4 separate regions of the Homo sapiens genome follow, and all the other regions are linked to region 1. Evidence: fine-mapped expression QTL. A gene starts in region 1. Each other region holds a variant in brackets. All regions are shown on one strand. Distances are from middle to middle.

Region 1 (2,687 bases):
TCATCCTTCTACCCCCAAACTTCACCAACCCGAAAGGATTCCAAGTCTGGGATGGGGAGAAAGGAAAGAGGGTGGAGGCAAAGGTGCGCGACGGGCTGGATACCAACTGGAGGGTGGGTGTTCGCATTGAAATGTTTTTTTCTTTTGCCCTAGAAATTGCTTCCCCATGCGGGCCCCTACTCTCTCCCATTTCCCCCACCTCCCTGCTTTCTTTTTCTTCAATTCTAGTGGATCTAGAAGGAAAACGAGTGCTGCTCTGAGTCACTCAGCGAGCTAATGCTATGGCCCGAAGTTGGGATCAGGGTCGAGGGGTGGGGGACCATGTGGATGGGGTCCCAATTCTGGAGGTTGAGAATGACTGGAAGGGACCTGGGGAAGGGTCGGGAGCTGTTCCTGGTCCGAGACACCTGATTTGTCCCGGACAAGGCAGTGGGGGAGGGGAAGGAAAGAGGGGATGCTCGGCTGGGACGTGTCGCGGCAGGGGGTGGAGGATGAGGAGGCGGCCTGGGACCCCGAGTCAGATCTTTGGGGTGAGCACGAGGACGTGGTGTAGGGAAGAGGACGAGTGAGCAGCGCCTGGCTGTAGGGTCAGAGGGCGCCTGGTCATCCTGAGAGCCTTGCCTTCGCAGTTTGAGATTAGGGGAAGTTCGGGGCCTGAGAAGGTGGGCGCGATGCTGGAGCTGGGAATTCTTCCTCGGAGCCCCTGGACCGAGTTGCGCTGCGCCTGCAGCAACAGGTAGCCCCGAGGGATGGGCGGAGGCCCCGGCCGAACCCGGAGCTGGCCTTTGTCCTGCCAATTAGAGGGCTCTCCAGAGGGACAGCGTGGGTGGGGGTAGGTGGGGAAGGGCGGGAGAGGAGTTTCCTAACACTTGGAGCCCCTTTGAGTTGTTCTGTGTATTGGGTGGAGGAGGGTGAATCCGAGAGGAGGGAGGAGGGTGAATCCGAGAGGAGGAAGGAGGATGAAGAGCCTAGCCTGCGCCCCACCTCTGATTGTGTAAGCGCCTTTATCTAGGGTTGACCCCCTACCCTTTGCATTTTGTCTCTTGGGATGACGAAAAATGGACAGAAACTCGACGCCCAAGTGAATGTTTCACATTGATTGGCAGGGAAAGTGCAAACAAAGAGGTGCATCTCCGGGAAACAATGATTTTGGAGATCCCCTGCCCACCACCCCAGACTTGTGCGCGGTGCGGAGGGGGCCAGGGCTGGCATCTCCCGGGGAAAGTTTCGAGCCTGGCAGTGGGAGGAGACCGTCTGGGCAGAGTTGTGATGAACTGGGGACCGAGCAGCCCCAGCTCGCCTCGGAGGTTCCCGAGCCGGGCGGGAGATGCGGGGAGAGGGAGGGGGCGGGGAGGGAGGGGAGGGAGAGAGGAAGAAGGGGTGAGAGGGAGAAACCTGCCGCCGCTCGCCGCCTCTTTGTCTGCTCCGGGACTTGGAACAAAAGGGGGAACTCTGATGAACTCTCTTTCCTCCCCTCTCCCCCGGACGCCGGGGTATCTCCCTCTCGCAACTTTGCCGCCCCGACTTTCTCTGCTGTCAGGCCGGGAAAAAGTGTCCGAACGCCTCGTGGACTGCAGCGGGGGAAATGTCCCTTAAAAGTGCGACGAAGTGGGGAAGAAGGTGAGTGGGGACTGTTGTCTTGTTTACCTCTCTCCCCTCAACTCGCCCCGCTCCCCGCCCTTCGGAGGGCAGAGGAGTAGCCCAGTGGCAAAGTTTGGCTGGTAAATTGTACCTCCTTTCCCCGTTCCCTTCTCTTTTGTTCTTTAAAGAACTCGCGCAATTGTTTCATTTGTTTATTTTTAATAGGCAAAAGCCAAGTAGGCATTTATCTTATGTGCTTCTTTATATGAGGGGCTGGGGGGATGGGGAGGAGGGTTTCAAAAGGGTGGGGTGAGGGGGTATTGCTTCGCGTTCTTCCAGCTGCACTCATGTAGGGATGAATATGCAGAAATTGAGAGGGTCAAGTCCAGCCTCGCCCCCACCCTAGCCCTGACCCTGGTCATGCAAAAGAAAGCGATATGGATATGGGGGTCGTTTGTATAACTTAGCTGTCTGCAGAGCGCTCTGTAGATACCACGCACAATATAAAAACGCTGCAACAATGGAAGGAAGAAAGGTTTGGGTTGGAGGGGATTGGTCCCTTGTGTTAGCGGTCAAGGAGAGGTTTACAACAAACAGCTAAGAGTTCAGAAAGTTTTCTTCGGGGCTGAGATGGGGTGGAGGAAGCCACAGGTTACAGACTGTCAGAGATGCAGGGATGGAGGGGATGGGGCCTGGACCACTAGTTAGAGCCATCCCGTCCGCCCCTTTCAGTTTCACGATCCACCCGGAATAACCCAGGCAATCCTTGGTATCCGTCCTCACCTCTCTCACTTTCCATCACCCCCCGCCCCCAACCCCACTTCAGTGTGTTTGAATAGAAAGCAGAACGTGAGCCCCAGAAGCTCCTCTGACCCAGCCTTCCGCCCCGCCTTTTGTGTTTTAACCTTTTGTTTCTATCTGCCACGCCCGTCCAAAAGAGGGATGGCTGTTTCTGCTGCTGCGGGGTGAAGAGGCAGCGCAGTCCACTCCGTTTTTATAGGCTAAGGAAGACGCCCTAACTTTGTTTCCTAAGTAGCTTAACTTAGGAATGTTTCTAGGTTGGGTCATGCGCGAATGAGGGGAACACTCAACACCCAGTAAACGTT
Region 2 (2,687 bases), 490 kb after region 1:
CAAACAGATTGAAGCTTGCAATCTCTGTCTTGTTTAAAACAAGGTGGTCAGGATTCCAGATTTAGATAGGAAAAAAATATATATACCATTTTTGTTATTACAAAATATTATTTTCTGGGGTATTGTGGGTTTGGCTCCCTTTTCAAAAACCAGCCTGATGTGGATGCTTATGGATGAAACTGAACTGCTCCTACCCTACCCTGTTGGCTTCACAATGTATAGGAAAACATAGGTTTTTCTCCAGAAGAAAATCTGCCTGCAGAATGTATCTGGAGGTTGTTTTCCTTGTTGCTGACATATGCACTGCATGTAGACAACTCACATAATCAACTGTATAAGATGACCCATTTTTTTCCTTCTCATGGATCTCCAAGTGTCTGTGGCTTTTAATAGATCTTTTCTAGAGGAGGAGTCTTGATAGATCTTTTTAAGGTAATCTGAAAAGCCATCAGGAGAAAAATTAAAGCAACACATATTTAAGAATACTTTAATTTTTCTTGTTCTTAATTATATGCTAACTGTGCTTAAACTGCAATTTCTTTCTGTTACCTTTTACTGCTGAAAGTAGTGATTATCCTTGCCTTTTAGATTTGAAATTAATTTTCGTGAGAACACCCTGGGATATCACAAGTAAAAAAGAAACTGGGCTACATAAAGGAAAAGAATAATAGAGATTCTTGTAAACTTGTCACATTAGTTTTTTTTGCCCACGTGAAAAAGGCAAGAGAAAATTTAGGTGTAGATTTTTCTTTTCATTTACATTTTAAAAAATATTTGGAACTATTTAGATACATAATGCTTTAAAACAGTGATTCCTACTTATAGCGGAGACTACAGTCAAAACAAAATAAAACAAATCCTCTAATGCTATCAGAGCCAAGAAATCTATCAATCATATATACATTTTTTAAATCCAGGAGTGTTTACATTTCAGCATATAAATCTTATCAAGCTAAAATAGAGTATATATTCTGATGTTGTAATTGATCGATCATACCCTCACTGGCTTTGAGAGTCCCCAAACATTTATTGTAAAGGTTTCCAACTACACTAGCAATCTTTTGTAATTGAATAAAATGCCAATTTATATTTGTTGAATAAAAGATTATCTGGGGTACTGCTCCTTCCGAAATGAAGCAATTTCTTTGTTGTTTTAATAAGTGAACATTTTTTGGTTTTCTTTTGCAGTATTTATTTTGCTTAGGTCAATGGACAATTATTTAAATATTTAAATGCAAATATATAGAAATAAAATGTCACTTTAAAATCACTTAAGAAAGGAAAAACGTCAACATACTTTTATTAACATTCTTTAATAAAC[A/G]TATGGCTAATTTGTATGTAAAGCACAGCCTGTTTCCAGGTACCCAGTCCAATCAAATGTTTATAGTTTGATTAAAAATAAATTGATCACATTATAATAGTTCAATATAAGTCTTATTTGGCTGTTTAGGTTGCTAAGAATTTCCCATTGTTTTTATCCATTACCAGGGAGGTAAGTATTCAATAAGTCAAAAACAAAAACAAAGCAAGCATATTTTAAAATGTCATTTATGCTGACTTGGCTAAGCTTAAGCTTATACTTAAGCTTGAATCCTAGATATTCACTTAGACAATGTATGTCATAGTATTCATTTCATCCTTTGCCATTCATTAAAACACCAAAGGAGCGATCATCCTCACTCATTGCATCAATCATTTATTTATTAGGTATTTATTTTCTGCTCACACAGGAGGCTAACTTCTCCAGTTATAAGGTTCAACATAGACCAATGAGGTTTTGGTGGGATTGGTGGGTAAACAAAAAAGGGAATATAAGCAGTTGATTGTGGTGGGCCACGAAGCGCAGGTGAATCTTGTGTTGAATAGTTTCCCTGACTGTATTCTGTCTGACACCTAATGTTACTTAGTCCTTACAACTTTGGGGAAGAACTGGTGCCCTTACTATCAGATGCTTGGAGATGATCAGCTCTCCTGATGTCACAGAGAAGCTACATCTCTTCCAAACTGTCTCAACACTTTTATAATATGAAAGATCTATCAGTAAGTCAGAATGTGCCTTTTGTGAAGTCATAAAAGCATAATGTAAACCAGTGATTTTTGACATCACTGTTAAAATGGGTAATAGTATCTCAACCATAATACCTGAAGCGCCCAAACTGTACACTGCCGGAGACCTTATCTGATTCCCTCAGCCTGATGCCTCCTGGGCTTCCTTTTTACCAGGCTCCTGTCTTATTAGACCAGCCATCACCTGGTGGTATTCTTTAGTCTGTTTCCCCACTAGTCTCTAACCCATTCTTCATCTGTGTGCCAGGGGCACAGAAGATGTTTCACAGACATTAGTTGATTAACAAATGAATGAATGAGTGAATTGATGAGTATCCAGAAGACAGATGTTAAGAGGAATAATGAAGTCTTCTATCTGTGGATGTATCAATGGCATAGGGCAGGGATCAACAAAGTTTTTCTATAAAGGGCCAGATAGTAAATACTTTAGGCTTTGTGGACTGTATGGTTTCTATAGCAACTACTGAACTTGGCTGGTGTAGCTAAAAAGCAGCCATAGACAATAGTAAATGAGTGAGTATGGCTGTGTTCCAATCAAACTTTGTTTACAAAAAGAGGCAAGGGGTTGGATTTGCCTGTGGGTTATAGACCCCAAGTTATAATCATTACCTTTGATATTT
Region 3 (2,687 bases), 150 kb after region 1:
TGAGATTCATTTGAAGTAACCTTGGCAGAAAGACCTTAGTTAGTCAGACTCTAAAGGATATTTTGAGCTGGAATATAAAAAGCACATGTAATAATTAATGTAACAGCAGCTAAAAGTGCCTGAGGTCAGTAGTTGCTACATCTATATTGCATGTAAACAAAGTGTTAGCCAAAACTACTTTCAGAGAGCCCTAATTACGTCTGTTTTAATTTAATTTAGTTTGATTTAATGATACTTTTTATATGAATTTGCTTCATGGTTACTCTGTTGAATTTCCTTTCCCTGAGAAGAACCCATAAGAGATTTTTTTCCCCCAAATGATTTAGTTTGGTGACTTTGGATACAGCCAAAGCATTGTATCTTACGGCATAGCATCTTCAAGTGGAAGAATGTACCAGATATAAAGTCAGTAATTTAAGATGAATTAAAATTTTGTTTAGTTTTTAAAATATGAGATTTACATACAATGAAGTACAAATATCTTATTGGTGTATTTGTGTGTGTATGTGTGTTTTGTTTTTGTTTGTTTGTTTTTTGAGATGGAGTTTTGCTCTTGTTGCCCAGGCTGGAGTACAATGGCGCGATCTTGGCTCACTGCAACTTCTGCCTCCCGGGCTCAAGCGATTCTCCTGCCTCAGTCTCCTGAGTAGCTGGGATTACAGGCACCCATCACTACACCTGGCTAATTTTTTGTATTTTTAGTACAGTGGGGTTTCACGATGTTGGCCAGGCTGGTCTCGAACCCCTGACCTCAGGTGATCCACCTGCCTTGGCCTCCCAAAGTGCTGGGATTACGGGCGTGAGCCACCGCCCCAGCCAGTGCATTCCTTGAGTTTTGACACATGCATATCCTTGTGTCCCTGGGACTCCTATCATAATATGGAACATTGCCATCACCTAGCTAGTTTTTTCTTGCTCCATCCCGTCAACCACTGCCTTACCACCTCCAAGGGCAACCTGTTTTGTGTTGTTTTGTTTTGTTTTTCTTCCCCATTGTCCATTCGATTTGCCTGTTCTAGGGCTTC[G/A]TGTAAATGAAGTCTCATAATCTCTGCTCTTTTGTAAGGCTTCTTTCATGCGTAAGCTTAAATTTAATAGTTTTTCACAATGTATTTAATGGAAGCTATATCATAAGAAGTGGTGTAGAAAAAAGAGTGGTCCTGTTTCAAAGAAGAAAGAAGGTAACATTCATTGTTATTTTGAAATGGCTAAAGTTGAAAATGTTTTTTATTGATCTATTTGCTAGTTAGAATTTTAATTGTGATAATTGTAGATTTACATCAGCTGAAGAAACAATGTAGCTTTACCTGGTCTCCCCTAGTGATAACATTTAGCAAAACTGTAGTACAATATCATAACTAGGATTGATATTGATGTAATCTACCAATCTTACTCAGATTTCCATAGTTTTACCTGTACTCATTTGCGTGTGTGTGTGTGTGTGTGTGTATACTCAGTTGTGTGCAGTTTTATCACATATATAGGTTTGTATATCTACCACTACAGTAAAGATGCTGAACTGTTACAGCATGGATCCCTCCTATTGTTTTTTTGTAGCTGTACCCAGTTTCTTCTCACCAGTCTCCTATCCTTATCCCTTGGAAACTACTTATTGGGTCTCCATTTCTAATAAACTTCATATATGTAAATAGAATCATATAGTTCATAATCTTTTGGAATTGGCTTTTTTCTTTCTTTTTTTTTTTTTCGATGGGGTCTCGCTCTATCACCCAGGCTGGTGTTCAGTGGCGCTTTCTCAGCTCACTGCAACTTCGGCCCTGCCCCAGGCTCAAGCCATTCTCCTGCCTCAGCTTCCTGAGTAGCTGGGACTATGGGCACCCATCACCACACCTGGCTAATTTTTTTTTGTATTTCTAGTAAAGATGGGGTTTTGCCATGATGGCCAGGCTGGTCTCAAACTCCTGACCTCAGATGATCCACCCACCTCGGCCTTCCAAAATGTTAGGATTACAGGCGTGAGCCACCCCACCCAGCCTATTTTTTATTTTAACCATTCTGATAGATGTGAAGGAGTATCTTATTGTAGCTTTAATTTGTGTTTCCCTGAGAGCTAATGATGTCGAACATCTTTTCTTGGCCATCCATATATCATCTTTGGTGAAGTGGCTGTTCATGTCTTTTCCCCATTTTCTAATTGAAGTTTTAAAAATCTATGTTTAAAGCCGGGCGCGGTGGCTCACGCCTGTAATCCCAGCACTTTGGGAGGCTGAGGTGGGTGGATCACCTGAGGTTGGGAGTTTGAGACCAGCCTGACCAACATGGAGAAACCCTGTCTCTACTAAAAATACAAAAAAAATTTAGCCGGGTATGGTGGCACATGTCTGTAATCCCAGCTACTTGGGAGGCTGAGGTAGGAGAATTGCTTGAACCTGGGAGGCGGAGGTTGCGGTGAGCCGAGATCGTGCCATTGCACTCCAGCCTGGGTGACAAGAGCAAAACTCCATCTCAAAAAAAAAAAAAAAAAAAAAAAAAAAATCTATGTTTAAAAGAAAGATTATGCAAAGCACAACCCCAGTAGGTATCAATAACATTTGAGAAGAGTACCTCAAAAAAGATCTCACTAGACTTGAGAGATACTATTAGATAAATAAATTGAGCCAATTGATGGGTGTAGGTAGATGCTCTGCAACAAATGGGTAAAAAGAGGAACTGTCAACTTTTTGTCGATC
Region 4 (2,687 bases), 230 kb after region 1:
TCTGTCTCAAAAAAAAAAAAAAAAAAGGCCGAGTGCAGTGGCTCATACCTGTAATCCCAGCACTTTGGGAGGCCGAGGTGGGTGGATCATCTGAGGTCAGGAGTTCAAGACTAGCCTGACCAACATGGAGAAACCCCATCTCTACTAAAATACAAAATTAGCCGGGCGTGGTGGCGCATGCCTGTAATCCTAAGTACTCGGGAGACTGAGGCAGGAGAATTGCTTGAACCCCGGAGGTGGAGGTTGCGGTGAGCTGAGATCATGCCACTGCACTCTAGCCTGGGCAACAAGAGCAAAACTCCGTCTCAAAAAAAAAAAAAAAAGAAAGTAGAGCCTTCTGGCTTGGTAATAATTTTACAGATGTGTTGTATTAAACAAAACAAAACACTGAAAAAAACCTTAACTGTGAATACACATACGATCCAAGATAACCCCAGGAAAAAAGAAAATATGTTTTCTCTAACTCTTAGAAGTTTAGAAAAGCTTTTCTTTTCTCATTCTTTCAAAGCAAGATGATCTTTTTAAAAATCTGCTGCATCTTAAAATTGATACCTTCTTGGGTCAGCCTCATGTACTATCACACTTCTATTATCAAAGAATGACCTTTCATTTGTTGAAAGATAATTTTTATGAAAAATTGATGTTGAATTCCACCATGTGCCTTTTCAAAGTCCTAGCTTGATCTACCAGGGGATTATTGTTATATAGTACTTTTATTCCTAGACTTAAACAAAACAAAAACCTTTCTTGTACCAGCCAACTGTGTCCCAAAATTCATAACTCAGTACTCATCATTCTCTGTTGAAATTTTATCTTTTCAGTGTTGTGCAATATTTTGGATGTTGTCCATATTATAGGCTAGTCAGGATCTGCCACCTTGCTATTTTTCAGGTATGTAGAAGGAGGTGGAAAATTAGTCTCAATATCTAAATCAAACAAAAAATCCGTTTATGAAAGTTCTGAATTCCTTAGGATAAATTTTTGTTCTTTGAAGGCTATGACTTATCAAATGGTACCTAATGCTGTGTGGATAGCCGTGCCCGCCAAAGTAGCTTATTTACCCGGCAGGATTGAGACCACTGATTTTTGTAGAGTAAGTCATAACAGCCTATTAACATTCCGTTATGCTGAGCATAGAACTAATAGGAGAACATCTGTGAGGTCAGAGATCAGAAGTAGACTTCAGAATGTACT[A/G]TTCAAAAAAGGATGCAATGGAGAACATTTACAGAGGACTGTGGGTAAAGCAAAGTCTTCAAGGGAAGATAACAAAGGATGAAACAATGGTGTTGTGTGACTTCCTAGTGAGTGAGATACTGTGAATTTAATCTATAGCTAACTTAATTTACTCTTCATCAAAATTTAGCTGACTCCAACATGCATACACCTTTTGAGCTTCCTCTAATTTTCTGTTATTAGGGTTTTACATATTTAGCTCAACTAATTGAATTAGAAGATGCAGGAACATTGTCGGAATGTTTGAATCTCATTTAATGCTTCATATTGGGACAGACGAGGCACTCCGAAGGCAGAAAGGCCAGTTGGGACACAACTGCTGGGGAGGGGCAGGAGGCTGTGGCCATTCCTATAAGACAGTTCAGGGGGCCGTTCCAAGCCAGGGAGACCTGGCAGGGATCTGAGAAATACACAATAAGTGAAATGGAACAATTTTTCTACTGTTTTAGCTATTATCTAGAACCCATGTTAGACCCTTAACTGGCCTTGGCGTGAACTTGACATTTGAATCATTTGGGAGCTTTAGGCAGTAAAAACTGGAAGAATATACCTGGAAAAGCAGGTTTGAATGCGAGGATTAAGTTATATTAAGATTAAATTGGGGCCGATTGCAGTGGCTCACACCTGTAATCTCAGCACTTTGGGAGGTGGAGGTGGGTGGATCCCTTGAGGTCAGGAGTTCGAGACCAACCTAAACAACGTGGCGAAACCCCGTCTCTACTAAAAATACAAAAATTAGCCAGGCATGTTGGTGTATGCCTGTAAGCCCAGCTACTTGGGAGGCTGAGGCAGGAGAATCACTCGAACCCGGGAGGCGGAGGTTGCAGTGGGCCAAGATGAGGCCATTGCGCTCCAGCCTAGGCAACAAGAGTGAGGTTTACATTGTGGTAGGCATTGAGAGGTGTAAAGTAAATAAAATAGAACCCTCACTTTCAAGTGACAGCTCTAGAGAGCCTATATCCCGAAGGCTCTAGAACCTGCAAACTTCAAAAGAACCCCGGCAATGTGTGAAATAAGTTTAAAGTAAATATTACTTAATTGCTCATTCAGTCATCGAATAGCCATTGTTTGGGTGGAAATTGGGGAAGAAAATGTGTTGCTTAAGAACACGATAAGGAAGGAGTGGTCAGACAAGTAGAAGGATTGCTGGGAAGAATCGTGTCCAGAAAACAGAGGGAAGAGATAATTTCCAGAAGGAAAGGGTGGGTCAACTGTATCACATGCCACAGAGAAGCCAAGTGAAGATAAGCTTACAAAAGTGAGTAGTGGTGATACGGAGGTAATTGGTGACCTTTAGGAGAACTGATTAGTGGGAGTGGTATGGGGGAAAGCCTGTTTGCAGGAAGTTAAGGAGTGAAGCCGACTCTTATAAGACTCTTTAGAAAGAGAAGGGGCGTGTATGAGATAAAGGAGGGTGAAATATGGGACAAATTCCCTCAGTTTGTAATTGTGTG

What was found. PIP is the estimated chance that this variant, and not a neighbour inherited with it, causes the effect.
Region 2: its variant is fine-mapped to the expression of CASC15 in adrenal gland (GTEx, PIP 0.96).
Region 3: its variant is fine-mapped to the expression of CASC15 in nasal epithelium (TOPMed, PIP above 0.99).
Region 4: its variant is fine-mapped to the expression of CASC15 in testis (GTEx, PIP above 0.99).

What each region holds. Positions count from the first base shown.
Region 1 is chr6:21,665,026-21,667,712 of GRCh38, forward strand. CASC15 (cancer susceptibility 15) reads left to right here and starts at 1,388. Exons shown (of 12, transcript NR_015410.2): 1 at 1,388-1,620. It overlaps LOC124901483, which reads right to left and starts at 1,035. Exons shown (of 3, transcript XM_047419653.1): 1 at 1,027-1,035; 2 at 622-790. The coding sequence starts at 1,035. RefSeq lists a silencer at 653-947.
Region 2 is chr6:22,150,535-22,153,221 of GRCh38, forward strand. All of the region lies in intron 9 of CASC15 (cancer susceptibility 15), which reads left to right. Among named protein-coding and RNA genes, the nearest start is that of NBAT1, 4.7 kb to the left of the region's middle. RefSeq lists an enhancer at 1-624. The variant A/G (reference allele first, on the strand shown) is at 1,322.
Region 3 is chr6:21,817,960-21,820,646 of GRCh38, forward strand. All of the region lies in intron 4 of CASC15 (cancer susceptibility 15), which reads left to right. Among named protein-coding and RNA genes, the nearest start is that of CASC15, 150 kb to the left of the region's middle. The variant G/A (reference allele first, on the strand shown) is at 1,026.
Region 4 is chr6:21,897,484-21,900,170 of GRCh38, forward strand. The region is part of intron 4 of CASC15 (cancer susceptibility 15); the gene reads left to right. Among named protein-coding and RNA genes, the nearest start is that of CASC15, 230 kb to the left of the region's middle. The variant A/G (reference allele first, on the strand shown) is at 1,195.